Homo sapiens: one gene and its partners. The protein of the gene in region 6 purifies or fractionates together with the protein of the main gene of each other region. This does not show direct contact. Each region holds a gene or a part of one and is shown on either strand. Other genes may lie near its edges.

Evidence for each region.
Region 1: the proteins of PPP6R1 (region 6) and HTR2C purify together in Homo sapiens (co-immunoprecipitation; one large-scale study listed by IntAct). This does not show direct contact.
Region 2: the proteins of PPP6R1 (region 6) and RAB40C purify together in Homo sapiens (affinity purification with western blotting; one study listed by BioGRID). This does not show direct contact.
Region 3: the proteins of PPP6R1 (region 6) and PDCD2 purify together in Homo sapiens (affinity purification with mass spectrometry; one large-scale study listed by BioGRID and IntAct). This does not show direct contact.
Region 4: the proteins of PPP6R1 (region 6) and AKAP10 purify together in Homo sapiens (tandem affinity purification; one large-scale study listed by IntAct). This does not show direct contact.
Region 5: the proteins of PPP6R1 (region 6) and ACSL3 purify together in Homo sapiens (affinity purification with mass spectrometry; one large-scale study listed by BioGRID and IntAct). This does not show direct contact.
Region 7: the proteins of PPP6R1 (region 6) and MAS1 purify together in Homo sapiens (tandem affinity purification; one large-scale study listed by IntAct). This does not show direct contact.

Annotation. Positions count from the first base shown.
Region 1 is NC_000023.11:114,901,668-114,905,717, forward strand, and holds part of HTR2C (5-hydroxytryptamine receptor 2C isoform a precursor), read left to right. Parts: intron 1-4,050. UniProt on the Homo sapiens protein: G-protein coupled receptor for 5-hydroxytryptamine (serotonin).
Region 2 is NC_000016.10:613,734-617,783, reverse strand, and holds part of RAB40C (ras-related protein Rab-40C), read right to left. Parts: exon of another isoform or gene 1,520-4,050; intron 577-1,519; coding exon 516-576; intron 1-515. UniProt on the Homo sapiens protein: RAB40C small GTPase acts as substrate-recognition component of the ECS(RAB40C) E3 ubiquitin ligase complex which mediates the ubiquitination and subsequent proteasomal degradation of target proteins.
Region 3 is NC_000006.12:170,574,709-170,578,680, forward strand, and holds the end of PDCD2 (programmed cell death protein 2), read right to left. Parts: intron 3,949-3,972; coding exon of another isoform or gene 3,928-3,948; exon of another isoform or gene 3,774-3,927; intron 3,010-3,773; coding exon 2,851-3,009; 3' UTR 587-2,850; downstream 1-586.
Region 4 is NC_000017.11:19,907,849-19,911,898, forward strand, and holds part of AKAP10 (A-kinase anchor protein 10, mitochondrial isoform 1 precursor), read right to left. Parts: intron 2,131-4,050; coding exon 2,078-2,130; intron 1,429-2,077; coding exon 1,333-1,428; intron 1-1,332. UniProt on the Homo sapiens protein: Differentially targeted protein that binds to type I and II regulatory subunits of protein kinase A and anchors them to the mitochondria or the plasma membrane.
Region 5 is NC_000002.12:222,867,438-222,871,487, reverse strand, and holds part of ACSL3 (fatty acid CoA ligase Acsl3), read right to left. Parts: intron 1-4,050. UniProt on the Homo sapiens protein: Acyl-CoA synthetases (ACSL) activates long-chain fatty acids for both synthesis of cellular lipids, and degradation via beta-oxidation.
Region 6 is NC_000019.10:55,245,191-55,249,240, forward strand, and holds part of PPP6R1 (serine/threonine-protein phosphatase 6 regulatory subunit 1), read right to left. Parts: intron 1,920-4,050; coding exon of another isoform or gene 1,914-1,919; coding exon 1,687-1,913; intron 489-1,686; coding exon 302-488; intron 213-301; coding exon 75-212; intron 61-74; exon of another isoform or gene 1-60. UniProt on the Homo sapiens protein: Regulatory subunit of protein phosphatase 6 (PP6). May function as a scaffolding PP6 subunit. Involved in the PP6-mediated dephosphorylation of NFKBIE opposing its degradation in response to TNF-alpha.
Region 7 is NC_000006.12:159,889,696-159,894,258, reverse strand, and holds the start of MAS1 (proto-oncogene Mas), read right to left. Parts: upstream 3,272-4,563; 5' UTR 3,126-3,271; exon of another isoform or gene 3,076-3,125; intron 1-3,075. UniProt on the Homo sapiens protein: Receptor for angiotensin 1-7. Acts specifically as a functional antagonist of AGTR1 (angiotensin-2 type 1 receptor), although it up-regulates AGTR1 receptor levels.

The DNA of each region.
Region 1 (4,050 bases), on a different chromosome or scaffold from region 6:
AGATTTGCAACAACTGAATTAGATAATGCATGTGAAATATATTTGACAGTTTATTAGTTGAAGAAGTACCTAAGGTTTGCAGCACAACATGAATTATAACTTACCTTTGTTGGTTCTAAAATTCTAAGGAAGATGATACAGAGTTATTGAAGTTAATCTCAGAAAGGTTAAGTGATTCCACCTAATAATTTATTTTTTTTTGTCTGGATTGAATAAAATATATATAAAAGTATATAACAATTGTGAAATATGTGGCTTAGTGCATGACAAATAAGCCCTCAGTAAAAGGTAGTTATTATTATTGGAATTATTGTTAGTGACACCTGATATTTTCAATGGTAGTTCATATCTAGTTTTCCTCTTTGGCCAAATCAGGAATTTCAAAAATATTGAAGATTGCCTCATGATATTTGCTAAACTTACTTAATTTTTCTGAAGTTAACTTCATCAAATAACATGTGCCTTGCGGAATTTTTATAAAAATGAATGATGAATTTAAAGTGTTTTGTTGCCAGTATTGCTGTTATTTATATTTACCAGACATGATAATATCGCATGAATTACTATTGGTTGAAATAAAAATGCTAAGACAAACTTAACACATTTGCTGAACTTAACTCTCTAGCACTTAAATAACTTAATGCATTAACATAGAACAGCAGTTCTCAAGCTCTTTGGTGTCAGGACCCCTTTATACTCTTCAAAATAATCGAGGACTCCAAAAGAGTTTTTGCTTATGCGGCTTATATTTATTGATATTTATGGTATTAGAAATTAAAACTGAGAAATATTTAAAATATTTAGGAATAATTTTATTTTCAATAATAATAATAAACCCATCTAAGGTTAACATAAAAACATATTTTTGAAAACTATAATCTCCAAAACAAATCAGAGAGAAAACAGGCATTGTTTTACAGTTTTGAAAATTTATTGTATTTATTTATTTATTTATTTATTTTAGATGGAATTTTGTTCTGTCACCCAGGCTGGAGTGCAGTGGCGGGATCTCGGCTCACTGCAACCTCTGCCTCCTGGGTTCAAGCGATTCTCCTTCCTCAGCCTCCCGAGTACCTGGGATTACAAGCATGTGCCATCATCCCTGGCTAATTTTTGTATTTTTAGTAGAGACTGGGTTGCACCATGTTGGCCAGGCTGGTCTTGAACTCCTGACTTCAGGTGACCTGCCCACCTCGGCCTTCCAAAGTACTGTGATTACAGGCGTGAGCCACTGCACCCGGCCCACAGTTTTGAAAATCTCTTTTAATATCTTGTTTGACAGAAAGAAAGCTAGATTCTCATATATGTATCCACATTCAAACAGTTGTGATATGTTGTTTTGGTTGAAATTTATGAAGAAAATGCAGTTTTAAAGACAGTTAGGAAAGGAAAACCTAGCAAGCTTTCTAACAGTCTCAGACACCCCCCTAGGGTCCTTGAATCACACTTTGAGAACTGCTGACACTTACCTTTTATTTTTTTTTAAAGTATTGAATAAGACAGTGTACAACATATATTGTTATTAATGCTGCTTTTGTTGTTGCTTTTTATAATTTCCTCATATGTTTGAAATAACTTGAATTTCTTCTTGTTTTGTTGATTGCATTCATGGTTTCTAAAAACAAAAGAAAATTAATGACAGTGCAGATTTGGTAAACTGGTTAAGCTACTTTGCCAAATAATACCTGTCTTATAAAGTTTTTAACCAAATTGAGATAATACATTCTACATCTGTAATGTCAGTAATATACATGGCTCAGTGCCTGGCACATAGGATACACTCAATAAATGGCAGCTATTAGAATCACCCTTTCCTCAATGCACAAAAAATAATACAAATAGATGCCAGGGATAAAATTGGCCTCATCTACCCAATAACAGCTTCAGCTTATCTACAGTGACTTTGCTACCCTCTCTTGCTGTCCCTTGACAAGGCCTACTTTAGGCTCAAGAATCCCTTAGACAAGTGAATAAATCATTTAACAGAAGCGAGCTAACATTACTCTGGAGTTGGTCTCTAAGTGATACAAACTTCCACCAATCTCATGGCCTGTGTGTGAGGCCTTCCCCAGAAACGTCCAAGTGTGTCTATGAATACTTAGAATATATGCAGCATTTCCTGTGGGAAATTGAAGGTACATGCCTCAGTCATGATGCCTCCAGGGTGAAAGCAAATTCCCCAGATTGAGTCTCTAGCCCCACGCTGTAGTATCTAAGGTGCTGGGTGGTTGGCAAGGTAGGAGATTGAAGAGGGAAACACCACTCCTGCATCCTTTATTGCTTTTGCTGTAAGGAACCTGGAAAGGTATAACAGAGTTTCCTATCAACACATTGTCAGAAAATGGCCTTCTTCCCTACAGTTTTATCAAACAGGTGGTTGAATGTTTCTATTTAGGGATCCAAATGTTTTTTTGCTCTGGAAGGAATCACTTCCAAGATTAGCAGTGGCCAATCAGTTTTGGAGACTTTTTAAAATCTGAGGCTTAACAGTGATGTTACTCTGTTTCAGAAAGGACCTCTATGTCTTCTTTTCTCTTTTTTTAAATTGAAAAAAATTATTAAACTTTCTGTTTCATAGTTGACTTTCAAAGATTACAAAGGTAGAATTATAAAATAAAGCCCATGAACTCATCATCCAGCTCCAAGATTTATCAGCCTGTGGACTGTCTTGTTTCATCCATACTTTCATCCACTTCTCCCTCCCGTATTATTTTGAAATAACTCCAAACATCATAATACTTCATCTGTAAGTGTTTTAGTATGTATATCAAAAAATAAAAGAGCTGTCTTTTTATATAACCACAATATCAATACCTCACCTAAAAATTAATGAACAATAATTATTTAATATCATCCAAAGGCCAGTCATTGTTCAGATTTTTAATTGTGTCATGAAAATTTTTAACATGTTTTTGTTTTCATCAAGATCCCAAGAAGATCCACATATTATAATTACTTGATAGATCTTTTAAGTATCTCTTAATATATAAGTTCCCCCTCTAACATTTTCTCTTGTAAATTTTTTTAAAGAAACTCTTTCTTCTTTTAAAAATCTTATATTAACTTTCTGCAGACTAATCCGTCACTAAAATATGTTATTAAGGTTAAGCCAACACTGATGTCTTTAGGGCATGTTTGATCTGTGCTGTCTAGAGATTACCTTACGTTTATGATTTTTCACATAAAGATTTAAACAACACAGTCTGGCAGCTTTCTTAACTGCTTTTTTTTTTTTTTAACTCTTAAGAAATATATTCTGTGTGGTTCTGCTGTACTCTATATTCCCAAATTCCTGTTGAAATTTCCCAGGCATTTCATCAAACTTGGTGAAAAATCACTTTCTCTTTTCTCCTTCTAATAATTGTCATTCCACCCCATCTAGGTGCAAAGGTCTCTGCTTTAGGATCTGGCCATGCACTACTTGAGGTGACTTACTGTTTGCAGTGCCTCCTCATTTTCAGTCTTTCCTACTTTCTTGAATGGTGTGCCTAGGTTCAGAGCTATAGGTAGGCATGGACCAATACCCAGGGAAGTCTTGTCATATCTGTTGTGGCTTCCTCACCCTGTTACTTGGCTTCCTACTCTAGGAAAAGGCCAGTCATTTTAGAAATTCCATGTCTGAGGAAGAAGACTTAAAGATCACTTTCAAAACACTCTCTTCTTTCTATCTTCCCAGAGATTAAACATCCGTCAACATTCTCAGCAAGCTCTAGCAAAGAAGCATTGACTCATTGTTTTTTTTCCCTCTTGATCATCCAGCCAGACACTCTATACCTGACTAGGCATGTTAAAGCAACTAGTAAGGACTTTCTGTTTCAGGTTTGTCACAGTTGCTTGTGTGTTCTCTAAGGTCAGCAAGGATCTCTGAGAATGCATTTCTGTCTCCTCTCACAGTTCATGATGTAGACACCTACCAGCCCAGGATTCCTAATAATCTCTAATGGAACCCCACAAATACAATCTGAACTTCCCAGGCTTCGACTTCCTGTGGACACAAGACAGGACAGCAATCTCTATCTGTTATCTATTTATCTCTATGTATTGATGCAG
Region 2 (4,050 bases), on a different chromosome or scaffold from region 6:
GCAACTTCTGCCTCCCGGGTTCAAGTGATTCTACTGCCTCAGCCTCCTGAGTGGCTGGGACTACAGGCGCCCGCCACCACACCTGGCTAATTTTTGTATTTTTAGTAGAGATGGCGTTTCACCATGTTGGCCAGGCTTGTCTTGGACTCCTGACCTCAGGTGATCCTCCTGCCTCGGCCTCCCAAAGTGCTGGGATGACAGGCGTGAGCCACCACACCCCGCTGGGAAATGCTTTTTAAGGTGAAGCCGACAGAAGGGGAGGGAAGGGGCTCACAGCCACCACGGAATCAGGTTTTCCGGGGCAGGAGGGGAGCCGCGATCTCTAGGGACACAGTGTCCCAGACTGTCTTTTTCCTGTTGGAGTAAAATCCATTCTATGTTTAAACAGGGGCTGTGTAAGTGGCTCTTCCAAGTGAAATGCAAACAGGACGCCTTCCTGTTTCTCTAAGGGTTCTGTTCTCCCTTCGGCATTTGTGTCCTCACCCAGGAACTGAAGTGCCGCAGCCCCAACTCACCAGAGCTCCAGCTTCACGCGCCGGCCGTCCAGCAGGATGGTGGTGGTCTTGTAGTCGATCCCTGCGAGGAAGCACAGGGCGCTGAGGGGACGCGCCACTCCTGGAGCGAGCGCCCGCGAGACCAGCCTCGGCCACTGGCCTCCCAGGGCCAAGACCCACGCGGAAGTGGAGAAGCAGCTCCCCCACACTCAGCCAGTGGGGCAGGGGGAAATCTCGGGGCTCTGGCCCAGCAACCCAGGCCTGCCCACTTCTGCACACGGGCCACGGGCAGGGCGGGGCAGGGCAGGGCAGGAGCGTGGTCCATACAGTGTCAGGCCATCGGGCCCCACAGCCTAGCAGGCCAGCCTCTCCATGGGCACGGCTTGCCTGGAATGGGGCCTCCGCCTGTGGCCCGCGCTGGGTGCAAGGCACAGGGCCTCTCCCTCAGAGGGCATTGGGCAAAGGCAGGGCGTGGACTCCAGCGTGCCTGGAGAAAGGGCAGTGCCTTTATTTCCACCCTGACCTACTTCGTATGCATTTTGAAGTTGAATTCTCCAAGGCGAATGTATTTCCAAGTCTCGGCTTACTGCAGCCCAGGAACTGCCAAGGTTGGTGTTAGGGAGGGCCAAACAAGTTTAAAAATGCTGCTTCTGGCCGGGCGCGGTGGCTCACGCCTGTAATCCCAGCACTTTGGGAGGCCGAGGCGGGCGGATCATGAGGTCGGGAGTTTGAGAGCAGCCTGACCAACACAGTGAAACCCCGTCTCTACTAAAAATACAAAAAATTAGCCAGGTGTGGTGGTGGGCACCTTTAATCCCAGCTACTCGGGAGGCTGAGGCAGGAGAATCACTTGAAGCTGGGAGGTGGAGGTTGCAGTGAGCCGAGATCATGTCACTGCACTCCTGCCTGGGTGACAGTACTCAATAAATAAATAAATAAATAAATAAATAAATAAAATGCTGCTTCTCCGGACTCTGGACTGACCTCAGACAGCCACCAGCCTGCCTGCCACATTGGTATTTTTTTTTTTTTTTGAGACAGAGTCTTGCTCAGTCACCCAGGCTGGAGTGCAGTGGTGCGATCTCTGCTCACTGCAAGCTCCGTCTCCCGGGTTCACGCCATTATCTAGCCTCAGCCTGCTGAGTAGCTGAACTACAGGCGCCCGCCACCATGCCCGGATAATTTTTTGTATTTTTAGTAGAGGTGGGGTTTCACCGTGTTAGCCAGGATGGTCTCGATCTCCTGACCTCATGATCCACCCGCCTCAGCCTCCCAAAGTGCTAGGATTACAGGCGTGAGCCACTGCACCCGGCCTTTTTTTCTTTTTTGAGATGGAGTCTCACTCTGTCGCCCAGGCTGCAGTGCAGTGCCACAATCTCGGGTCACTACAACCTCCACCTCCCGGGTTCAAGCGATTCTCCTGCCTCAGCCTCCCAAGTAGCTGGGATTACAGGTGCCCACCACCACAGCCGGCTAATTTTTATAATTTTAGTAGAGACGGGGTTTTGCCACGTTGGCTAAGCTGGTCACAAATTCCTGACCTCAGGTGATTCGCCCGCCTTGGCCTCCCAAAGTGCTGGGATTACAGGTGTGAGCCACCGTGCCCGGCCCACATCACATCATTACTTTTTATTTCCTTACAGTTTTATAGGAAAAGGTCAGTCCAAGAGAAACTGAAAGGAGCAGACAGTTCTGGACACTTAACGCAGGCACGACATCTTAAACAGGCTCTGGGCCCTCTGGAAACTTTCCAGAAGCTTCTACCTTTAGGGCTCAGCCCCTTCCCCCACCTTAGAAACACCATTCACGTTTTGTCTTTTTATGACACTTTCTCCAAGGGGCTTGGAAACGGGCACTTTTTAAACATAAGCGACGCCCTCCCACGGAGTGCACCTGCCCAGTGGGCTTGTGTGTGTGTCTGTGCACATCTGTCTCTCCGTGCGGGCCCAGCCCTGCAAGCCAGCCATGCGGTCTCTCTGCCTACGGTGCCCTTCTTCAGGCATCAGCGCTTCCACCCACACCGTCCTTCTGCCTGACCAACCCCTACATGTACATCAAAGGCTGTTCTCATGCATCGAAGGACACCATCAATGGACAGAAAAATGCAACCCAGAGATGGAGGGAAATGTCTGCAGATCACACGTCTCCTAGAGACTGATCTCTAGACTCTACAAATAACTCCAACTCAACAACAGAAAACCAAACGTCCCAATTTTAGGATGGACGGATGGTCTCCCTCGGGTCCTCGTTTCCAAGACAAGAAGGAACAATGGTTGTGCCAAAAGGGCCACGGCTGTGAGCAGCCCATGACTGCAGGAGCTGCACCCAATGTGTACCCAGGGACAACGCCATTAAGCAGTTCATCAGGATGCGGTAGAGTTAGGCAGTTCACTATCGGGACGAGGTAAAGTTTGGCAGTTCACCATCGGGATGCGGCTGAGTTAGCAGTTCACCACTGGGACGAGGTAGAGTTTGGCAGTTCACCGTCGGGACGAGGTAGAGTTTGGCAGTTCACCGTCGGGATGCGGCAGAGTTAGCAGTTCACCATCAGGATGTGGTAGAGTTAGGCAGTTCACCATTGGGACGAGGTAGAGTTAGGCAGTTCACCATCGGGACGAGGTAAAGTTTGGCAGTTCACCATCGGGATACGGCAGAGTTAGCAGTTCACCATCGGGATGTGGTAGAGTTAGGCAGTTCACCATCGGGATGCGGTAGAGTTAGGCAGTTCACCATCGGGACGAGGTTTAGGCAGTTCACCATCGGGACGAGGTAAAGTTTGGCAGTTCACCATCGGGATGCGGCAGAGTTAGCAGTTCACCATCGGGATGTGGTAGAGTTAGGCAGTTCACCATCGGGATGCGGTAGAGTTAGGCAGTTCACCATCGGGACGAGGTTTAGGCAGTTCACCATCGGGACGAGGTAAAGTTTGGCAGTTCACCATCGGGATGCGGCAGAGTTAGCAGTTCACCATCGGGATGTGGCAGAGTTAGCAGTTCACCATCGGGATGTGGTAGAGTTAGGCAGTTCACCATCGGGACGAGGTAGAGTTAGGCAGTTCACCATCGGGATGCGGCAGAGTTAGCAGTTCACCATAGGGATGCGGTAGAGTTCGGCAGTTCACCATCGGGATGCGGTAGTTAGCAGTTCACCATCGGGATGCGGTAGAGTTTGGCAGTTCACCATCGGGATGCGGTAGAGTTCGGCAGTTCACCATCGGGATACGGCAGAGTTAGCAGTTCACCATCGGGACGCGGTAGAGTTAGGCAGTTCACCATCTGGATGCAGTAGAGGCCGCAGCCTTGCAGACATTTTGGAAGCATCTGCGCCGACTGTGTGCTTCCCGAGCTGCGTGTGAAGCTGCGTCACTGCCCCAGTGGTGCCCTTCACAGCAAGCCAGTCAGGAATCCTGCTCCTCAAGTCCAGGGCTATGCACGTCACCCAAGTCTAGACCTGGGTGCTGCCCACGACCCCCACCAAGGCCCCAAGACCATGCATTCCACCTGGGTCTAGACCTGGGTGTTGCCCACGACTCCCACTAAGACCCACATAAGGAGCT
Region 3 (3,972 bases), on a different chromosome or scaffold from region 6:
TTTATAAAGTGTTGTGCTCCATATAGCAGAATACTTTCCCCTTTTAAGTTTTCAAGATAAAATGAGTTCATATTAATATGTCCAATTCAAAGCTCATAGGGTTATTTTACCAATTGTATATCCAATTCAAATTCAAAGCTTATAGGGTTTTTATTTAACCAATTCTGTATTACACTCTTCCTTCTACACTGAGAATTTTTAATTCTTAAAGACATAGGGGATGAGGAATTAGAATGTCCCATAATTACTCATTTACTTTACGTATTTACTTTATCATTACTTTATCTGTTATATGTGCAATTTTTTTTGAGACACGGTCTCTGTTGCCCAGGCTGGAGTGCAGTGGCACAATCATGGTTTGCTGCAGTCTCAAACTCCTGGGCTCAAGTGATCCACCTCAGCCTCTGGAGTAGCTAGCCAGGACTACGGGTGCACACCAACACACCCAGCTAATTTTTTTTAATTTTTGTAGAGACAAAGTCACTCAACTGTTGCCCAGGCTGTTCTTGAACTCTTAGGCTCAAGCCATCCTCCCACCTCCACCATAACATTCTTAAGAGTAACAAAAACACTATCACCAATATGATTGCCAAAAACACTTGGAACTTTTTTTTTTTTTGCTGTGATATCTGAAATTGCCAAAGGATATTCAGTATCTGAAATAAAAAGGCAAAGCTGAATATGCTGCTCTCTACAGCAGAGGGAGCTGCTGTGGCTGGACAGTATCTGAACCAAGCAGATCTTAAAACTTTGTAGGTGTTGAGAAATGGTGGATGCATGGACTGGCACCGTCTGTGGAGCCATGATTATGTAGGTGAGACTTGCTCATTATCTTGTAGTGTTTTAAAATGTCTTCACATTTCTAAAGGCAACTTGCTTAATGCATTTTTTAATTTAAATTTTTTATGTTGTACAGTTTATTTTAAATATAGTTGCTATTTTTTAACACAGATGCCAAGTCGGTGCTGTGAGATTTTCTTTCTGGTGATTTGGACCAGTTTGTCTCCCTCTTGATATATCCATCCCAAATGGAAAGGCCCTGTAAACTGTTACGATCATCTCCAGAGGTTAACTGGAATATACACCAATGACAGCTTGCCTGGGTATGCCAAAATACCTGCAAGAATGTCCACATCATCTGGTGATGTCCCCAAATAACAGTTTTTACCATAGAAAGATCGTTAACATGTTTGCTTTAAAAGTCATTAGCAGTCATAACGTACTTACAGATTCTGCCTATAAGGAATAATACATAATTTTAGATATAAAGGCCCCACTAGTCCAGGTTTCCTTATGCCACTGTGCTTCCTACTAAGTGTTGCGACCAGCTCTTGTCACTAGTTGATGACAACTTACTCCAGTAGCCACAGGGCTGTGACACCATAGTTATAGGTGATTTTCATAGATTTAGCCATCCCAGGTTCGAAACTAGTATCCTCTAGCTCTTAAGTAGCTGATAACCTCCCCATGGGAGAAACTCCATACTGCAGTTTCCCATATGGTGCTATGTATAACTATCTTATACAATTAATACAAATTGCATATGTATACTTATATAATATGGACTACTAGGACAGAACTTTTTAAATTACAAATAAAATAGCCAAGTAGACAATTACATTAGCAAGTGATGTTACCTATGAAAACGTGAGGATTTATGGTGGCAATGCATTTCAGTTAACAGGGATGTGTTAGGGGACAATGTGAGCCAATGTAGATTAAGGAAATAAGCCTGAGAAATTTATCAGAATTAGCCGTCAGTATTCAAGCACTGATCAACAGCAATGTGTCTTAAGGGCAGGCATCACTGGTGCTGAGAGAACTGGGAATTGTCAACTGTGAGCTGCTAGGGGATGGAAGAAACCTTAGTGTAGTCTTAGGAGCCGCTTGCTTAAACAGATGTATCAGAAACATAATAGGCCAAGGGTCAGCCCTTTGAAAACTGACTTCAGGGCCTTCCTTTCCTCAGGCTGCTGCCTCCTAGGCCAGACCCTTATTTTGGCTTACATTCCATAACCCTTGTATGTGCGATAGGGAACCTGTATACAATGCTGACACGGAAAGGGAAGACCATCGCCTTTTGCCTTTCAGTGTCTCATCTGTAAGCAGGGCCGCTGGCTGACCAAGATCAGTTCTGAAGGTCCAGCCTCTTTAAATTCCAGTTCTGTGATCACAAAGCCACTGTTGTTCCTCATCCTGCCAACTGTGATACTGCTGCTTCAGAATTACTGGGTTTCCTGTTCATCATACTCACCAACCTGAGGTTTGGTATTTCTCAAATATTCTGGGCTTCCAGTACATACTAGAGCCTGTGATAATCAGCTAATGATCAGACAAGTTTGTTGGGAGTTTTACCTAAGTATTTTTGTGTTTTAAAAACCTAGGGTGGGAAATGCTCAGAGTGAGATGGTTTGACTTCATTAGGCATATAACCCATTTTTATTATAAAAAGAAATGCACATATAAGTAAAAAGACCATTTTAGTTAGTCCCACCATTCGTTGGTAACCAGTTCACTAAGTGTACATCTTTGCAGATTTCTGTGCATACATACAAATATTTTTACAAGAATAGGATCATACCATGAATACCACCTATAATGGTATGTCTGTTGTCAATATAGGTGTTATAATTAAGACTGTGTAGCCTTCCTCTGTGGATGTACCAAAATTTATTTAATTCCCTGTCACTGGACACTTTTGTTTCACTAATAAGTAGACACTGTGTAAGCAATCTGTCAACATCTCTGCACCTCTATTTTTGGTATAAGTATTTCCTTAGGATAAAATCCCAGAAATGGAATTGCAAGGTATAAAAGATTATTAACATTTTTCAAGGCTTTAAGATGCCTTTACGGTGTATCTGTTACATCCTGCTTCCACACAAATTCTTCTGTATAGCCAGTACCCAAGCTGCAGCTCTCAGCACAGGTGAAGACAGCCAGGATGCCCCAGTCAATGCTCTTGCCCAGTCTGTCAGCCTTCAGGTAGTTTAGGAGCTGAGGCATGACCTGAGAAGAGGGTGACACACAGTTAGAAAGCTGCTTCACAGCAGGGAGCACGAGACCTTCTCAGCCAGGATGATTATAGGGATCTTGGTCTTTCAATCCTCATACTACAAAGCAGGATTATAGACATTATACAATTAACATGTTTAACAATCTAAAACTTCCTTATGACTTCAAAGCCCCTCTCACCTTCTGTTTGGTCTTTTCCATTTGAGAAAGAAGTTCACAAGTGGCTGTTAATGAATTATTTTCATTACTAATATGCCACTCAAAAGGGCTGAGGCTTCTATTTGGGCAACTTTTACTTTGTATCATTGCAGATGTTGTTACTCTTGACTCAAGAAACACTAATTACTAGTAATGAATACAGAAAGGACATCTATCAATGTAGTTATAGAGACCAGAGAGGAATCTTAGAAGTAGTCTAACTCAAAGAGTGAATAGGCAGAATAGCCACCTGATATGGAATCACTTTATACAAATCCTGTCACCTCAATTTGGACATTGAGAGCTTTGGCACTAAGAACCAAGCAGAGTTTTGTGTATGGTCCTCATAATTCCTTTTTTACCCAAAGAAACAAACCAATATTAGCTATGACTTTGGTAAGGTTAGTGAATCCATAGCTCAAGAGCATTTCCACCCTACCCAAATGGATTTTGATGCTAACAAATCCTTTTGGGCAGGGAAGGACATTTATCTTTAATGCTTATATCCATTTTTTCTAACAAATCCACAAACCAAGATTAAACAGTAAAGACTCCTCTCATAAAGTATATAGTCAAAGACTTTAATTACTAGAACAAGAAAGGAAGGTATACATTATTTAAAATAACAAAAGTTAACAGAGGCACTAATAATAATGACATAACCACACTGGAGGTGGAGAGCAGTGTAGATATCCTCATTGTCACAGAAGTCAGTCAATAGACCGTGTCTGAAAACTAGGAAACAGAAAAAAACAAGAC
Region 4 (4,050 bases), on a different chromosome or scaffold from region 6:
GTGATTGACGTCAGACATTCTTTTTTTTTTTTGAGCCTGAGTTTTGCTCTTTTTGCCCAGACCAGAGTGCAGTGGTGCGATCTCGGCTCACTGCAACCTTCACCTCCTGGGTTCAGGCAATTCTCCTGCCTCAGCCTCCCAAGTAGCCGGGATCACAGGTGCCGGCCACCATGCCTGGCTAAGTTTTTGTATTTTTAATAGAGACGGGGTTGCACCATGTTAGCCAGGCTGGTCTTGAACTCCTGACCTCAGGTCATCTACCTGCCTCGGCCTCCCAAAGTGCTGGGATTACAGGCATGAGCCACTGCGCCCAGCCTGGACGTCAGACATTCTAACTTTACACTGTGAAGTGCTGAATTTTGTTGTGTTACTGTAAAGAGGGTTAGGCCTTTGTTTTGGCATGCAGTTGTTAGGTAATTTGACCCTTTAAAAATTTGCTTTGAAACTTGGTTCAGGTGCTTGTACTCTAGGACTAATTTATCTTCAGTAGTAAGGCATAACCTCTGTGAAGACACTACCCAATGCCTTGTGTATTACTAAGTCTCTCTACTCTGGCCAGATCCTTCTGGCCATGAACTTTTCTTAGCCCTATGTTCCAGCAATCATTCAGCCTACTAATTTCTGGGGGGTTCTCTACCTGGACACATGCGTTTTCACCCCACACATATACAGATCACTCCTAGGCCAAGGATCCATGGGAATCTCTCTAAATATCTCTACGGCTTTCTTTCTGGGCAGCTTCCTCTTTTCTGCTACCTTATCCTACAACTTCTACTCAAATTGAGCTCTCTGAACTTTGATTTTTTTTTTGAAATGGGGTTTCGCTCGTCGCCCAGGCTGGAGTGCAGTGGTGTGATCTCGGCTCACTGCAACCTCCGCCTCCCTGGTTCAAGCGATTCTCCTGCCTCAGCCTCCCAAATAGTTGGGATTACAGGTGCCTGCCACCACACCCGGCTAAGACAGGGTTTCACCATGTTGGCCAGGCTGGTCTTGAACTCCTGACCTCAAGTGATTCACCCGCCTTGGCCTCCCAAAGTGCTGGGATTACAGGCGTGAGCCACTGCACCTGGCCTGAACTTTGATATTTAACTCTTTCGTTCAGCAAGACTACTGGGCTCTGTTTGGTTTCCATGGTTTCCCTGTATTGCCCATTGTCCAATATATGCAAACAGTTGTTTCATTTAGTTTGTCAATTTTCTAGTTGCTTATGATAAGAAGGTAATCCCCACAGCAGTTAATCCTTCAAAGGCAAAGAAACCCCTTATGTTCTTTTTTATTTTTACACCTGGAAAATAATACTTTTTAGTTTACACAAAACGAAGTCATCCTTACCTTTGTAGATTTCTCTAACGGTTGATCATACTGAGCCTGCTGCATAATGTCACTGACTATCATTTTAGCAATCTTCCAAGCTAGCTCTTCCTGGGCCTAAAGAAAATAATTTAAACTGGTGATAATGGTTATTCATTAGATGGATCGAGATGCACATACTCAGTGCTCTTAACAAATGGCTTACGCACATAATTTCTACTTATTTGGATAAGAATTTCATTCCCATGTACGAAAAAACCTGGGCCACCCTCTGGCTATGAATATTAACATGTCATTCCCTGTCTTCCAGTGTCAACTACTGGATACCTAACACCGAACTACTTTCATATTAGATGGTCAAAATAAAACATTTTCCTTTTTTCACCTCCCATCTCTCAATGTACTTAATTAACTATTAAAAAAGCAAGCCTCCACTACTTGAAGTAAAACTGCCAGTGGGGAAGGAAACATTTGAGCTTTTGATCTACACACTGATTACTGATGCCTGCTGGCTGATGGAAACTTGAATGCATGTATATCCTTCAGTGGTCCTAGCCTCTGACTGAAGATACCTTCACTGCTACTACCAGGCAATTGTTAGATGTTAAGAAGGGACCACCCTTTCTTGGTACATTCTGGGTAAGAGAACATAAATGTGCCATGCTGCTTAAACATGGGACCTAAAGAAAAGGAAAATTTTAAACCTCACTTACATGAGGGTGGCACTTATAAACAGAAATCTTTTTATCCTAAAGGTAGGATTTACCTCATCAGTATTTCCTTGCACCCATTTCTTCATAGCTTGTGAGAACATGGATCCTAGTAAACAAAGACAAAATTGAATGTACATTTCATGCATAATTTTACATTAAAAATGCTCTTATTTGGCTGGCCATGGTGGTTCATGCCTGTAATTCCAGCACTTTGGGAGGCCGAGGTGGGTGATTCACCTGAGGTTAAGAGTTCAAGACCAGCCTGGCCAACATGGTGAAACCTGTCTCTACTAAAATAATAAAAATCAGCCAGGCATGGTAGCAGGTGCCTATAATCCCAGCTACTCAGGAGGCTGAGGCAGAAGAATTGCTTGAACCTGGGAGCAGAGGTTGAAGCGAGCTGAGATCGTGCCACTGCACTCCAACCTGGGCAACAGAGCGAGACTCCAACTCAAAAAAAAAAAAAAAAACCACTATCACCACCACCACCACAATGCTCTTATTTAAAAGCTGTTGCTTCCAGATATGGATATTCTTTTTTGTGTGATACCCCAAAACACTAAGGAATGTTACATTAATAAAAACTGATTATATTGCTTACATAACAGAGCATTTAACTTGCAAACATCATGGCTTGAAAAACTTTTGAAAAGGTGTTTCAGAGTTCTGGACTTTTCTTCTACTCTCCTCACTTGATGAAAGAACTAACATCTAGTGTTAGTTTGTGGCAAACATTAAAAAACAAAACAAAACCAAACCAAACCCTAACCAGGATAATGCTCTTGGGTAAGAATCTAGCAATACATTGGGAGACACCAACACATTTGTTATGTTTTCAAACCTTCCAGACCAGCTCCTATATAAAAGGGCTTCTAAGACAGAGTATGCTGCTACATTCTAGTTCTCTAGTCTATATAAACTAGCTGGGTGAGAGAAGAGTTTCAAAGAGCTCTACTCTATCCAAGCCAGAGTACGCCTTAACTCCCTAGGATGTATAAGCCCACATCTGTAATCACATGCTGAGAATCATCCGAAGTAGGCCAGCCTCTATTTCTATGAATGAAATACACAGCTTACTTTTTTATTTAATAATTTGAACATGCTCACTTCCTAACTTTGCTTTAAAACAAGTTAATTGTTGGTAGATTATTTCTTGAGGCAAGGTCCTGTTTAATTCAATAACTGAATTCATAAAAAATACAAAACCTGGATCCTTTTCCCTCAATTTTTATTATTACCTAAGGGTTTAAATATTGGTTTAATGAAATTTTACTGCCAACCAGAGTCTACAGAGTCACAGTGTTAAATGCTCTGCATGAAGGCTCAACTGGCTGTTGAATCACCCCATGCACTGTTCTCTCGTCAGGCCCCCCTGCAGAGTCACTCTATTGACATGTTAGAAAACCCATGTTAAAAAAACTCAATCTACCTTCCCAATTTACACATGAAATCTGCCACCAAATTTCACCTTAGAATTCAACCTTGGACATATCATAAATCCGACCTTCCCTCTAATTCTTGCTACCACTACCTAACTTTGAATCTTTTTCTTCTCCTATCAACATTACCAGCTAATTCCACTGGCTGACTGGTGTCCCTCATGCCAGTCTCTCCCACCTCCAATTCATTCTCATTCTACTGACAGGGAAAAGCATCTGGTTAGAACTCTGTTTAGAAATCTCTGGGCTGGGCGCGGTGGCTCACGCCTGTAATTTCAGAACTTTGGGTGGCTGAGGCGGGAGGATCACCTGAGGTCAGGAGTTCGAGACCAGCCACAACATGGAGAAACCCCGTCTCTACTAAAAATACAAAATTAGCCAGGCGTGGTGGTGCATGGCTGTAATCCCAGCTACTCGGGAGGCTGAGGCAGGAGAATTGCTTGAACCTGGGAGGTGGAGGTTGTGGTGAGCCGAGATCACGCCATTGCACTCCAGCCTCGGCAACAAGAGCAAAACTCTGTCACAAAAAAAAAAAAAAAAAAAAAAAAAAAAAAAAAAGAAATCTCTGATGTCTACATGATGGGAGT
Region 5 (4,050 bases), on a different chromosome or scaffold from region 6:
GGGCCCCTAGTGATAAGCACTTTACACATCTTTCACTGACTTCTCACCTCATTCTATAAACATCTAAGCCCAGAACTTTGTTCACTTTCCGCCACTCCCTGATCTCACCATCGCCTACCCAGATGACCCCTCATCTGGCTTTCTTTGAGGAGATCCCAGCTATCCCACTTCGCATTTTTAAAAATAAATTTTTTTAACTGAATTCTCCTTTCCACATCTTCTACTGTCACTCTGCTTTCACCTTTCCCAACTCAAATGGAAAGCTGACTCTTCCCATTTCTAGAACTTACTCAAAACTTAAAAAGCATTTGGTAATGTTCCCTTCCCTTGCCCTGCAAAGATCCAGTCAGTTGCCAAGTCCCGATGGTTCTGCTTCCTCTGTCATCCCCTGCCTCCTGCCCTTTCTCACGTGTTACTTTATCAGTTCAGGTCCTTACTCCTGTCACCTGGCAGAATTCAACTGTATCCTTAACTATTCCTCTGTCTCTAGTCCCCTCTCCCCCTCCTCCATCAATGCATCCTTCATTCATGTTGCCAGTGTGACGTTGCCACTCCCTTATAACCCGTATTTCACATCAATCCTCTCTTCAAGAATCTCAATTCCCTCCTCATTGTCCAAAAGGGGAAAAAAAAGAAGGAATAAAAAACAATTCCAAACTCGTCTGCCAAGTACTTAAGACTCTCCACAACTTGAAGTCAGCTTACTTTTCAACTCTCACCTTCCAACTCTCTACTTCGCACACTACAAACAAATCAATTCCATCCACTTCTTTGTCTCCCTTACCTGTCTTCTCTGCCTTTGCTCATTTTGCCCTGTTAGCTCTACCTGGAATGTCCTTTATTCTTCTGCATACATTCAAAGCCTAGTTATCTCTTAGCATCTAAATTGATTAGGCATTCTCTGATACCCAAACCTCCACTGGCCCTAGCCCCAGCCTGAACTTCTCTACCCATCCGCTGACCCCTTAGGGCACTCTCTCATGGCACTCATTTTCTTTTGTAATTATTTGTTAAACAATTGTACATCTCAATATAGAATGCAGAGAAACAGTTCTGCCTCATCTTTCACTCCATCTATTTACTGCCCACTGCCTCTGAGATGGTTTCCATGAGAATCTTGCTTATTGAGATGTCAAAAGAGGAAGAGACTCATGCAAACACCCCATTAAATTCCAGGTAGTAAACACATCAATGAATACATGGGGAAATGCACAAAGCTAACTGATAAAGTCAAAGACACCTAAGAAATAAATATGGCACAGGTAACAAAAATCCTGAGTCAAGTAAAGGAGGGGGAAAAGGAGGTAAAAAGAACAGTGATGAAGCAGATCCCTCTCCATCCCCCAAAAGCAAGAAAGGATTACAGACCAAAAAAAAAAAAAAACCAGAAGTCCAGTCAGACTAAATGGCACAGACAATGCCACACCACCAGTCTCAACGGCAGGGTTACAAACAACTCGGGCCAGACCTTCAAAGCTCCTCCTGCAACAACTCAGAGCCACTCAATTCTCTCCATTTGCTAGCTGCTAGTTCTCCCTTTCTATTCCTAGAAGGTTTAATTCATTCAACAACTACTTTCAGAGTTTAATCAATAAATAAAGAGGTTACGCTAGGTCTTAATTGCTTTTGTCCTCCAAGTCCATGTGCCTTTCTTCCCCATGGGATGTGATTTATCCTCACAGCTTCCTGAGTCCTCCCAAGCAGTTGATGGCTCAGTTTTATTTGCCAATCTTCCAAACTCCACTGCCCACTGGACATCCTATGTGAATACCTTCCTCACAAATCTTTCTTCAAATCTAACATTAGTCTCATTTTGCTCAGCTGACCATTCCCTGGCTACTGTGGCAAAACATGACCTCTCTGTCCTTTATACTGCTCATTTAACATTTACAGCATCTCCTCTGTAACTTCATATGGCCTAAATCCTCTTGTCCTTACAGAATTAACATTTCCTAGTCCCCTTTAAATAATGTGTATTTTTATTAATATAATGGGTTCACTCACACACTGGTTCAGAATGTCTTGTTACCATTTACCAAAAAACTACTTGTGAAGGGCAGAGAAGGGATAAAGAGGAAGAAAGAATATACATAGGGAAAACAGAAAAAAAGGAAGTTACAAGAGAAGACAGGGGAGCCAGAGAGATGAAGGAAGCAACTAACATAAGTCATGATAACCTTGTGAGGTAAGAATTGAAATCTTTATGTTACAGAAATTGAAATGGAAGGCTGAGAAAGGTTAAGTCACTCGCTCAAATTTACCTATGAAGCTTTACATACATGGATGGCAATGGTTCCTTCTCCACTGAACAACACAAGGTTGATGACATAGGATAATATACTTAGAAACACCATCTGAATCATTATCAGGGTCATATTACAAAAGGTATTTAAAACTAACAAGAGTAGACCCTTGGTAATTATCTGAGAATTTCACCATGTCAACTCACTTTCAAAGTGCTTTATACGTATTTCAAAAAAATTGAAACACGATAAATCCTAATTTTTTTTTTTTTTTTGAGACAGCGTCTCCCTCTGTTGCCCAGGCTGGAGTGCAATGGCATGATCTTGGCTCACTGCAACCTCCACTTCCCAGGTTCAAGCAATTCTCCTGTCTCAGCCTCCCAAGTAGCTGGGATTACAGGCACCCGCTACCACACCCAGCTAATTTGTATTTTTAGTAGAGACGGGATTTCACCACATTGGCCAGGCTGGACTCATGCCACATTGGCCAGGCTGGACTCAAACTCCTGACCTCAGGTGATCCGCCCTCCTCGGCCTCCCAAAGTGCTGGGATTAAAGGCATAAGCCACCATGCCCAACCAAATCCTAAATTATTGATATTAAAATATAACAATCTAGTTAATGTACCTCAACTTATGGTTTGCTACAGTTTACAGTATCTCTTCCCAATCTCCACTAACAGTTATAAAACATCACACATTTCCTTGAGGCATAGATGTCTGTGTTAAAATGCTGCTTCAAAAAAGAAGGCAACACCACAAACTGAGTAGGCTTAGAAAATACTGCATACTCTAACAAAAAATAAAACTAATAAAAATAGCTAATATGTATTGAGTAATGACTATGCCAGACACCTCATTTGAATCTCACAACAATCTACGGGTAGATTTCTATTATCTCCATTTTACAGATGAAGAAATTGAGACATAGAAATTAAATACGCTGCCCAAAGACACACAGCTAAAAAGTAGAGCCCGGATTCCAATCCAAGCAATCTTAACTCTGAGCTCATGTTCCTACCCACCAAACTGCAATGAAAAAAGTGCACTACATTTAGAGGAAAATATTTAAAGGAAACAAACACTAAAATACAGAATTAGCTAAATCAAATGTACATCAACACAGAAACGTTTCCCAAGAGAAAGGGTACACGTGAATTATCCCTGCAGTCATGCATGGAATTACAAGTAAAATAATATATATCTGTAAAATATGTTCAAGATATTTCTATATTTTAAGATATTTTTATTTAAAAAAAAAAAAAGCAAAGAAAGTTAACTAAAGTAAAGATTACTAAAAAGAGCCTTCGAGGAAAAGTGCCCATTACAGTTTTGTACTGTTAAGTATAATGGACAAAGAATGGTACCTTAGCTCAAATAATGAAACGATTAGAGGAAGGCCGAGACAAAAATGTGAAGAACAGAGAAAAAGGAGCACAGGTTAACTACAGTGTCAAAAATTAAAACAAAGACTTGTGTTCAATAATACTTAACGGTAATAATGTTTGTAATAACAAAAAAAATGGAAACAGCCTAAAAGTCTATCAAGAGAGCAAAGGGGAAATAAATATGGTATAGACCTAAAATGTACTAACTTGTCACAGTAAAAATAAATGACCTAAATCTACATGAACCCACACTGATGAATTGAGTTGAAACTCAATTCATGAAACCACACTGCTAAGTGATTTTGAGTGGGGATAAAATAAACAGTATGCTGAACAAGAATACATGCAGTACCATCTATATAAAGTTTAAGAATACACAAAACAATACTATACACTGTCTAAGGAAACACACATGTGTAA
Region 6 (4,050 bases):
GGTGAGAAGGCGAGGGATGCATCGCTGTCCACCACGCCCAGCCCCCCACCCCCAGAGGAGCCGGCCCTGCTCACATTGACAACATCCTGCCTCAGCTGAGGCCGCTCCACACAGGTGAGCAGGCGCAGCAGGAGGTCCATGATGGCCGAGGTGCCAATGTGCTGCAGCAGCAGGTCCACGAAGTCATCCTTCTTCCGAAGAAAGGACACGAGCTGGGGGCACACGGGCTGCGTCATGCACAGGGCCTGGCCCAGCCACCACCCCTCAACCCACGGTGGCGCCAGGGTGGGGGCCAGGGCACCTGGTCTGTCTTGCGGTTGATGAGGATGCCCATGACCTTGCTGAAGAAGCTGGCCAGCAGTGGGTTGAGGCTGCCGGTGCTCTGCAGGAAGCCGTAGAGCCGGTTCAGAAGGGACTCATCAGCACCCAGGGCATCATTGATCTGGGGCACATCTGAGGTCAGAATCTCGCAGGCCACACTGGGGTACCTGGGAGGCAAGCACAGGCGGGTGGGGGCTCGGGTCGGAGGCCGGGGGCAGGGGGCGGCAAGGCTCCACCCTCTTCTCTGCACCGGGCACTGGGTTTCTGGGAACTGCAGAGACCCCTGTCCAGGAAGGGGAAAGGGCAGAGGACAGGGTGACGCAGAAACAAGGGCCCACACCAGGCCTCCTCCACCCTGCTAACACCCAACCATCCCATCCTAGGCTCCTTACCACCCCCAAGACAAGCTGGTCCTGAAGCTCCTGCGCTTCCCAATCCCCCAGCAGCTAACACTCATCCCTTTTGCCTCTCAGCGGCTTCACTTGCAACCCCGTATGCTGCCCCAGCTCCGGCTGACTCCTGGAACCTTGCTCAACTTCCAACCTCACCTCCTGCCTCCCTCCTCCAAACTTTCACACGGTGCCTGACGGCTCCAAGACAAGAGCTGCCCCACCAGCGTGCCACTCAAGGCCCTGAGGGGCCACAGTCTGCTCCAGGACTGTGGGGAGGTACCCCTTGGGAGGCTGAGGCAGGCATATCACTTGAGGTCAGAAGTTCAAGACCAGCCTGGGCAACATGGCGAAACCCTGTCTCTACCAAAAATACAAAAATTAGCTGGGCGTGCTGGCTTATAGTCCCAGCTACTTAGGAGGGTGAGGCAGGAGAATCACTTGAACTTGGGAGGAGGAGGTTGCAGTGAGCCGATCATGCCTCTGCACTCCAACCTGGTGATAAAGTGAGTCTCAAAAAAAAAAAAAAAAGTGTCTTTTCAGCATCGCTTGGATTAAAAAATAAGTAAAGTGTCTTCAATAGCAGACAAGTGTTTCACAAACATACAAAAAAAGTTTAATAAAAAGTAAATAAAATAAAAGGCGGCGAATAAAGAGAAAAACCAGCCGGGCATGTCGTCACATGCCTGTGGTCCCAGCTACTCGGGCAACTGAGGCGGGAGGATCACCTGGGCCCGTGAATTTGTGGCTGCCGTGACCCGTGACTGTGCCACTGCCCTCCAGAGCACAGGCTTGGTCTGCACCCGGTGAGCTGTGAGGCCTTGTGCAGGAGCCTGGCTGCTCCCAGCCTCGTCTTCCTCATCCCCAAACTGGAGTTTACTGACACTGACGCATTTCAGGGTAGCTGTGAGGCTTGCGTAGTGAAGGTATGTGTGATGCTGATAGGGACGGGCTGGCCAGGAGCTGGGGAACTCACTTGTAGCGCAGCCGCTCCTCACCGCTATCTGGCGGCTCCTGGGTGACCCAGGCCACCATTGCTTGCAGGTGGGGTGGCTGCAGCAGGAAGTCCAGCAGCTTGCGGTTGACGACCTTGCACTCCTGCAGCACGTCTTCCTCGTCCAGCAGCTCGGGCAGGCTCAGGTCCTCCCGCTCCAGCAGCGTGTCCAGGTGCGAGCTTGTGTGCAGGTCAAACTTCCAAAACATGGCGCCCTGCAGGCATAGACACAACCAGCGCCGCGTCAGACGCCCCAGGGAGTCCCCACTGGACGAGGCACTGACCACAGGGGCTGAGTGCCCACCTTGGGCACAGCCTCTCCCCAAGTCCCAGCCCTCTGCCTCATGCTGAGCCCGGCCCCGCCCCGGGACTGCCCGCAGGCTCACTGCCTCCATCACTCAGGCTTAAGGCTCCCAGTGAGCACCAGGCTCCTGCAGTTGCCCTCGAGCCTGCCCCTCTTCCCCCATCTCCAGCCTCCCGGCCGCCTCGCCTGAGGTCCAGGGGGTCATTTCACACCTGAGGCCTCAGGCCTGGTGAAGTCCCCAGGTGTGGACCATGTGCAGGGCCTGCGAGAAGAGGCTGGACCCTGTGCACTGAGGGGCCTCGGGCCCTGTCTCCCCATGAGGGTCTGGGTCCACTATCCCTACTTTTGGGAGAGACACTGCAGAGGCAGGGCCTTAACCTCTGGCTTCAAATTTGCTTCAACCTGTATTTGCTCAACAAACTCAGATGCCCGATGACTTCCAGCACACGGCTGCTGCTTGGCCCAGCAAATCCCCCAAGGCTACGTGGGAGGCATGGGGCGGCGGCAGGGGGAAGAGAGGAAGTCTGTGCATCTCCAGGCTGTGGCCGTTGCCTGGACACCACTCACACACAAACACACCCCAACCATCCTCTCACCCAGCACCTGGGCTGGAACAAGGAAGAGGAAAAGTTGGAAGGGAGGGGCTCCCAGAATAGTCACTGACCAGGACCTGAAGGAACCCAGGGTGGGATAGACAGATTCTGTGGGGGAAGAACAAAGCTGGCAACACCCGGCCCTGACCCTGTCCCCATCTGGAGCTGGCTCCCGCCCTCTGGAGGACAGTGCCTGGTTCCTCAGCCTGGTTCCAGCCCCTAAACGCTCGTGCATGGGAACTCACTGGCAATAAGGAAACACACACAGAGTATTAACAAGATGCCAGGCAACTCCATTCTGAGCCCCTGCCCTGTACTACATCACTGCTCCGCAGAGCCCTAGAAAGCCTCCACACAGACCTTCCACTACAGACCTGACCTGTGACCTGTGCTCTGGGCACTTGATGACAATGGTCCTGGCTCTGCATGTGTGCTGTGCACATGATGTCCAAGCTCACCAGCAGCCCCCAAGAAAGCTGTCATCACTCCGCCACACAGGACAAGGGGCAACCAAAGCCCGGTAAGTCAGGCGGCATCCTGGAATCTCGAAGGCCATCTGGTCCCAGCAGACAGCCTTCACGGAGCTCTCACCAGTTAAGACACTGACCAGAGCTCACGCTCATTACCTGCCTCCTGACAACCGCATCACCAGCTAAGGCAGAGGCCACTGCTACCCCCAAGTCACTACAGAGGATGCTGAGAACAGAGCAGAGCCGGCACAAGAGGCCAAGGGTGCCTCTCCCGCAGGCCCTCACCACCATCACTCCCAGGCACAGATGCTAGTCCCTCTCCTCCAATGCCCTTCTGCAGCTTCTTCCAGTTCAGTCATTCCCTCTGCACAGGCCTCCACCATCTCCTCGAGCCCTGCTGACCTGTCACCTCAGTGCCCACCAGCCCCCAGGCCTGACTCAGCCCCAGGCCCCAGGGAAGAGACAGGGAGACGTGGAGCACCAGGCCCAGGGAAGAGACTTCATCGGAGCTTAGGAGAGCAGCCTGGGCTGACAAAACGCAGGACAGAGTCCCACACATGGCCTCAGGCAGGTCGAACGCCTCTTGGGCCTCCTTTCCTCTCCTTCCTGGCTAGCTTGAAGCCAGGCCAGCCTGGGGCCAGGATCTCCTTGCTCATCCACCCTGACCACCCTAAGGCTGGGCTCAGCACAGAAGGTTGCAGTCCAGACCTTGCTCCCAGTCTGCCCGTCTGCCTCGGTAACTCTAGATTGGCAACAATCTTGATATAACACTATATGGGTCCCTACACCTGGCCAATGACAGTTGAGGGTGGAGCAGAGGGAAGAGTTCCGTGACCAACGACAGTCATGGCGGCAGCAGGAGGACTAGGGGAGATAGCAGCAGCCTCCAGGCATTTGAACCCCTGCTCCTCTGGGGGGCCTGCCAGGTCCCAGTCCACAGCACCCAGTGACTCACCACTTACCCCTCACCAGTCCACTT
Region 7 (4,563 bases), on a different chromosome or scaffold from region 6:
TTTTAGTAGAAACGGAGTTTTGCCGTGTTGGCCAGTCTGCAGGCTCCGTTCTCGACCCTCTTCCCTTCCTACTCCACAGACTCTCCTTGGGTGGTCTTGTTCAATCCCACCATTTCAACCATCACCATTTTCTGATGAAATCCAAATGCACAGCTTTAGCTCACACATCTCCCCAGCATGTCAGACCCATATACCCAAATGTCCTGGGTATCTCCAACTGAGCCTCATCAGGTGGCAGAGCAGTCTCAGTGGGCCAAAACAGCAATCCAACCTTCCCCGCTGGTCCACACTTCCTCCAATATGCCTAATAGCCTTCCAACACAAAAAACTGGACACTTTACCATAATCTTGTATGTCCCCTGCCCTAGTGCCTAGAATCAGCCATTTCTCCAAGGAGCCCTGGTTCCTTTCAGTAAATAATTATATTTAGAAGCCAAGATCTGGGTGTAAAATGTGCTCATTGCATGGAGGCTGTCGCTGCTCCCAGCCCCTCTCAGTGGCAGGGCTAAGGAATATATGTACATAGATAACATTTATGTATAGTCATACATACACACACCTATGGCTGTATTTCTATGTCTTTTTATATCTTTATAAAATATATACATATAATCATAAATTGACACCAATATCTCCAGTTTTGACCCACCACCAGTGAATTCATTTGAGTTTTCTCCCTCTCCATATTTGTAACTCCCTTCTCTGAGAAACCTGGCTCCCTTGGCCCTCTATGCATTTACTCATTTGATCAACCCACCTATGAATGGTTGCCTATGTCTGCCACTGCTCTTCCCCTGCCCCTGCACAGATGCCCTCCTCACTTTGTTGGGCCCTTTTACTTCCTGTTGGACCAGTGCTCCCCCTGCCCCCTACCCTGAGACACAGACCTCACACTGCAGGAGCTCCAACACCCAGCACCAGTTCCCTGTACCCCCCATGCAGATATCCTGCCCTGCCCAGCACTGACATCCCCTGCCATGTCACCACTGCCACTGCCCTCACCCCGGCGTGGCTGCCCCCATGGGGATGATCCTTGCCTATTCAGGCTCCAGCACCTCACACAAGACACCATAAGCCAGGGTGACCATGGTGGAAAGTAGGACTTAACACCCACCACCTTCCTGCAAAACTCAAAGAATTGTGGGCAGTATCGCATCTGAATGCAGAAGAGACTTTTGAGAAGAGGGGTTTTGACATTGATCAAAGTACAGTGCAGAGGCCACAGCCTATTCTGCTTGTGCCTACGGCTGCTTGGCCTGGGAGCTGCACTTTCAGTCAAACTGACCATGAGAGGCAAGTCCTCCATCAAGCAGATTAACCCCACTGGGTCTCAACTGCTTCACATGCTGGCATTTTAATGTAGTTTGAAAGGCTGGGGTATAAGAAATGCTAGAGATTGAACAGCACTTTGCCAATATGAGTCTCATGGAAATGCCAAACTGAGATAATGAATCAACAAGCAGGGAAAACAAGCATGGTGGTTTCCATTGATGTGTAAGGATGTGGGCTTTGCAGAGCCTGTGTCCTGCCAGGTCCACCTGAGATTGCTGGCTGCAATTACCTCTCAATGAAAGTGAGAGGAACAGATGGGTGGTGGAGCTGATAGAAAAAACAAGGAGACTCAGAGTCAGCAGAGAGTTCTAAATGCCATACATTTATGCTGCTCAAGTGTTCTCTAGAGACCTCAGAAGCAAACAACCCCTTCCACATTCCCATTCAGTTGAGCACAGTCCTTCCATGGCCCCAGATACCCAGCCTAGGACATCACTCTTAGAAGAAAGAAAGAGGGGGCTGGGGAGAAAGGCAGGGAGAAAAAAGGAAAGAGAGAAAAGCCAATAAAACTCAGGCTGGGGGAGTGGGCCATCTGAAAGCGCCTGTTGTTCCCAGGCAACTTAAAAGACAGCCTGACCCTAGGCTGGATTTCTAGGTGTGCAGATCCAGAGAAAAGGGCAAATTCTTCCCTGTGTGTGTGTGCAGTCACCTGGACAAACAGAAACCCATTTGTGAGATGGAATTTCCATGGCAGGCAAGGGCTCCGATGGGAATGTACAGGGCAGGACCATCTGTCCTGGTATTAAATGCATCATTCCCGTCTTCCCCACACTAGGGCCATCTGTACGCAGAAGCAGAGACTTCTTGCTCCCTTTCCAAACATACCACAGGATCAATTTAGAGCCCTGGTCTAAAAGGGGGGAAGGTGATTTTGTCCCCTAAGGGATGTTTGGCATGCCTGAAGATATTTTTGGTTGTCACAATGGAGAGGAGTGTGCTACTGGTATCTAGTTGGTAGAGGCCAGAGATGCTGCTAAACATCCTATAATATACAAGACAGCCCACACGGCAAAGAATTACCCAGCCCAAAATGCCAGTAGTGCCGAGGCCGTGGCACTCTGCTAGAGGCCAGCTTCTTACCACCTTTTTACTGCTGCACCCATAGCAATCTAACAACACACTATACATTCTCTCACCAAATTACTCCTAAGTATCCTGGCTGGGAAGTGTTGCTAAGACGCTCATACCAAAGATCAAGACTGGGCAGGAGATTCCTTTTAACAGACATCTTGTCACCAAAGGAATGCATACGGCTTCATAAGCAACAGAAGCTAATACTGATGCCAGTGCCCACTAAGGAAAAATGAAGAAAAATCAATACAGCTTGCCCCTGTGATGCCAAAGAGCTGATAGCCAAGTGATTTCTCCAGAGGAATCAAATTCAGTAACAACTCTTTCAAACCTCAACTTCTTTATCATTCATAAGCTTTCATTAAGCAGCCTTGAAAACCTCCAAGTCCACCATTCAAACTGTGAATTGATCCTAAGATTCTTTCCCCTGCAACGAGTTAAAAAAGAAAACGCTACTGCGAAGTTTCAACCCTGAAGTTGAAAAACAATGTCTGGGAACAGTTAACTCAGCAAAGAAGTAAATTTTCCAAAACAAAGGCAGGAGGAAAGAGAAGTTTTTGCCAACACACACCAACGGCAAACATCTAACACACCGAAAAAAATAAAAGAAAGAAAAACCAGCACAGAAAAGAGTTATCCAAGAAATAGCTTTTTAAAGAGAGAAAATCTTACTCTGGTTGTCAAGGACAGCTAAGCAATGAAAAACTGGGACGCAGACTCACTGGTGTCATTTGCTCAGGAAGGGTCAGACGTGGCCAACAGGTTGGCTGCCCCTTCACATCTGGGGCATCAATGCCCAGCCAGCCTGCAGGGTCTCCGGTCCCAACATCTCGAAGGATGGCTGCAGCCTCTCATCTCTGAAGGAATCAGAGCTGCTCTCCCACTGCTGAAAATATTTGAGATGTGCCAAGCAGATGGTCCCACGCTTATCAGCAGAAGCTTCCAATGGCATCATTCAGTGACACACTCAAGTGAAAATCTTCACGCCAATCCAGAGCGGGGTGTGAGCTGGTGATAATGCAAGGCAGTGGATCACCTTGAACCACTAAGGCCAGCCAGGGCTAAAGAGAAAGATGACGTGGAGAAATGCCACATGGAAGGGCAAAACCGCATGTGTAGTAGAAAGACAGAACCATCTCAAATTCCCAGCTCAGTTTCTAATAAGTTATGTGACCTCTGCCAAGCTCTCTAAGACTTGGTTTTCTCATCTGTAAAATGGAGCTAATAATATTAACTCAAAACCTAGTAATGATGAGATGAGTCTATGTATAGACCCAGAGAGACATACGGGAGACACATGGCTAGATAGTTAAGGATTTGTTCCCTTCTCCAACCCAGTTTCGGAGAGTATCATGCTCAGTGTAGTATATAAGACCCGTAGGATGCTATGAAAAGCAAGCAAGCCAAGGAGTGTGTTCAGGGGTGAAGGCAGGGGTCTGCACCATTGGCCATGCCCAGACTGCGTCCCAGCCTGGTCCGGGGGCTCCTCCTGGGAGTAGCTGTTTCTGTTAGATGCCAACTCTCACCCGTGCAGTCAGGAACATGAGAGCAAATTCCTTTTCCCCGATCCCTGTTCTGCATTTTTTGTGTTTTTGTTGTTGTTGTTGTTTGGTTAGGTTTTTTGTTTTTCTACCTTTTAAAAACCAAAAATGGCCAATATGTTACCCATTTTTCAAATAACTCAATGTGAAGCCCCAAAGGCTGAGAATTCTGGATCTCTTGGATCTCAGGTAGCCAAGTCTGAGATCCCAAGCCTGAAGACCCACCCCTCACTCAGGGTAGCATTTTCTCTTGTTTAAAGGGATTCCTTCATAGATATTGTGCCAAAGTATTAAGAACCTCGGGGACCAACTATATCAAAAGGGGTAAGAAGGCAGTTTCAGACTCTGTGGGAAAGCAGACATAGGAACCCACAGATGAAGTTCCCCTCCGACTGTTTTCGTAAGCAGGAAGACCATAGTCCCAGGGCAGAGCCAAACTACTCTTGTGGGAAGCCTGACCAGCAGCTCGGCCCTCCCAGTGGGAAGAAGAAAGGGGAGAGAAGAGAGCTTCCCCTGAAGCCAGCAGGCATCTACTGGGTAGGCAGTGCTGAGCAGCAAATCAACAGACCAGGTGAACTCGGTCTTGAAGTTGGAAAGGTGTTCTCATTACCTGGTTCTG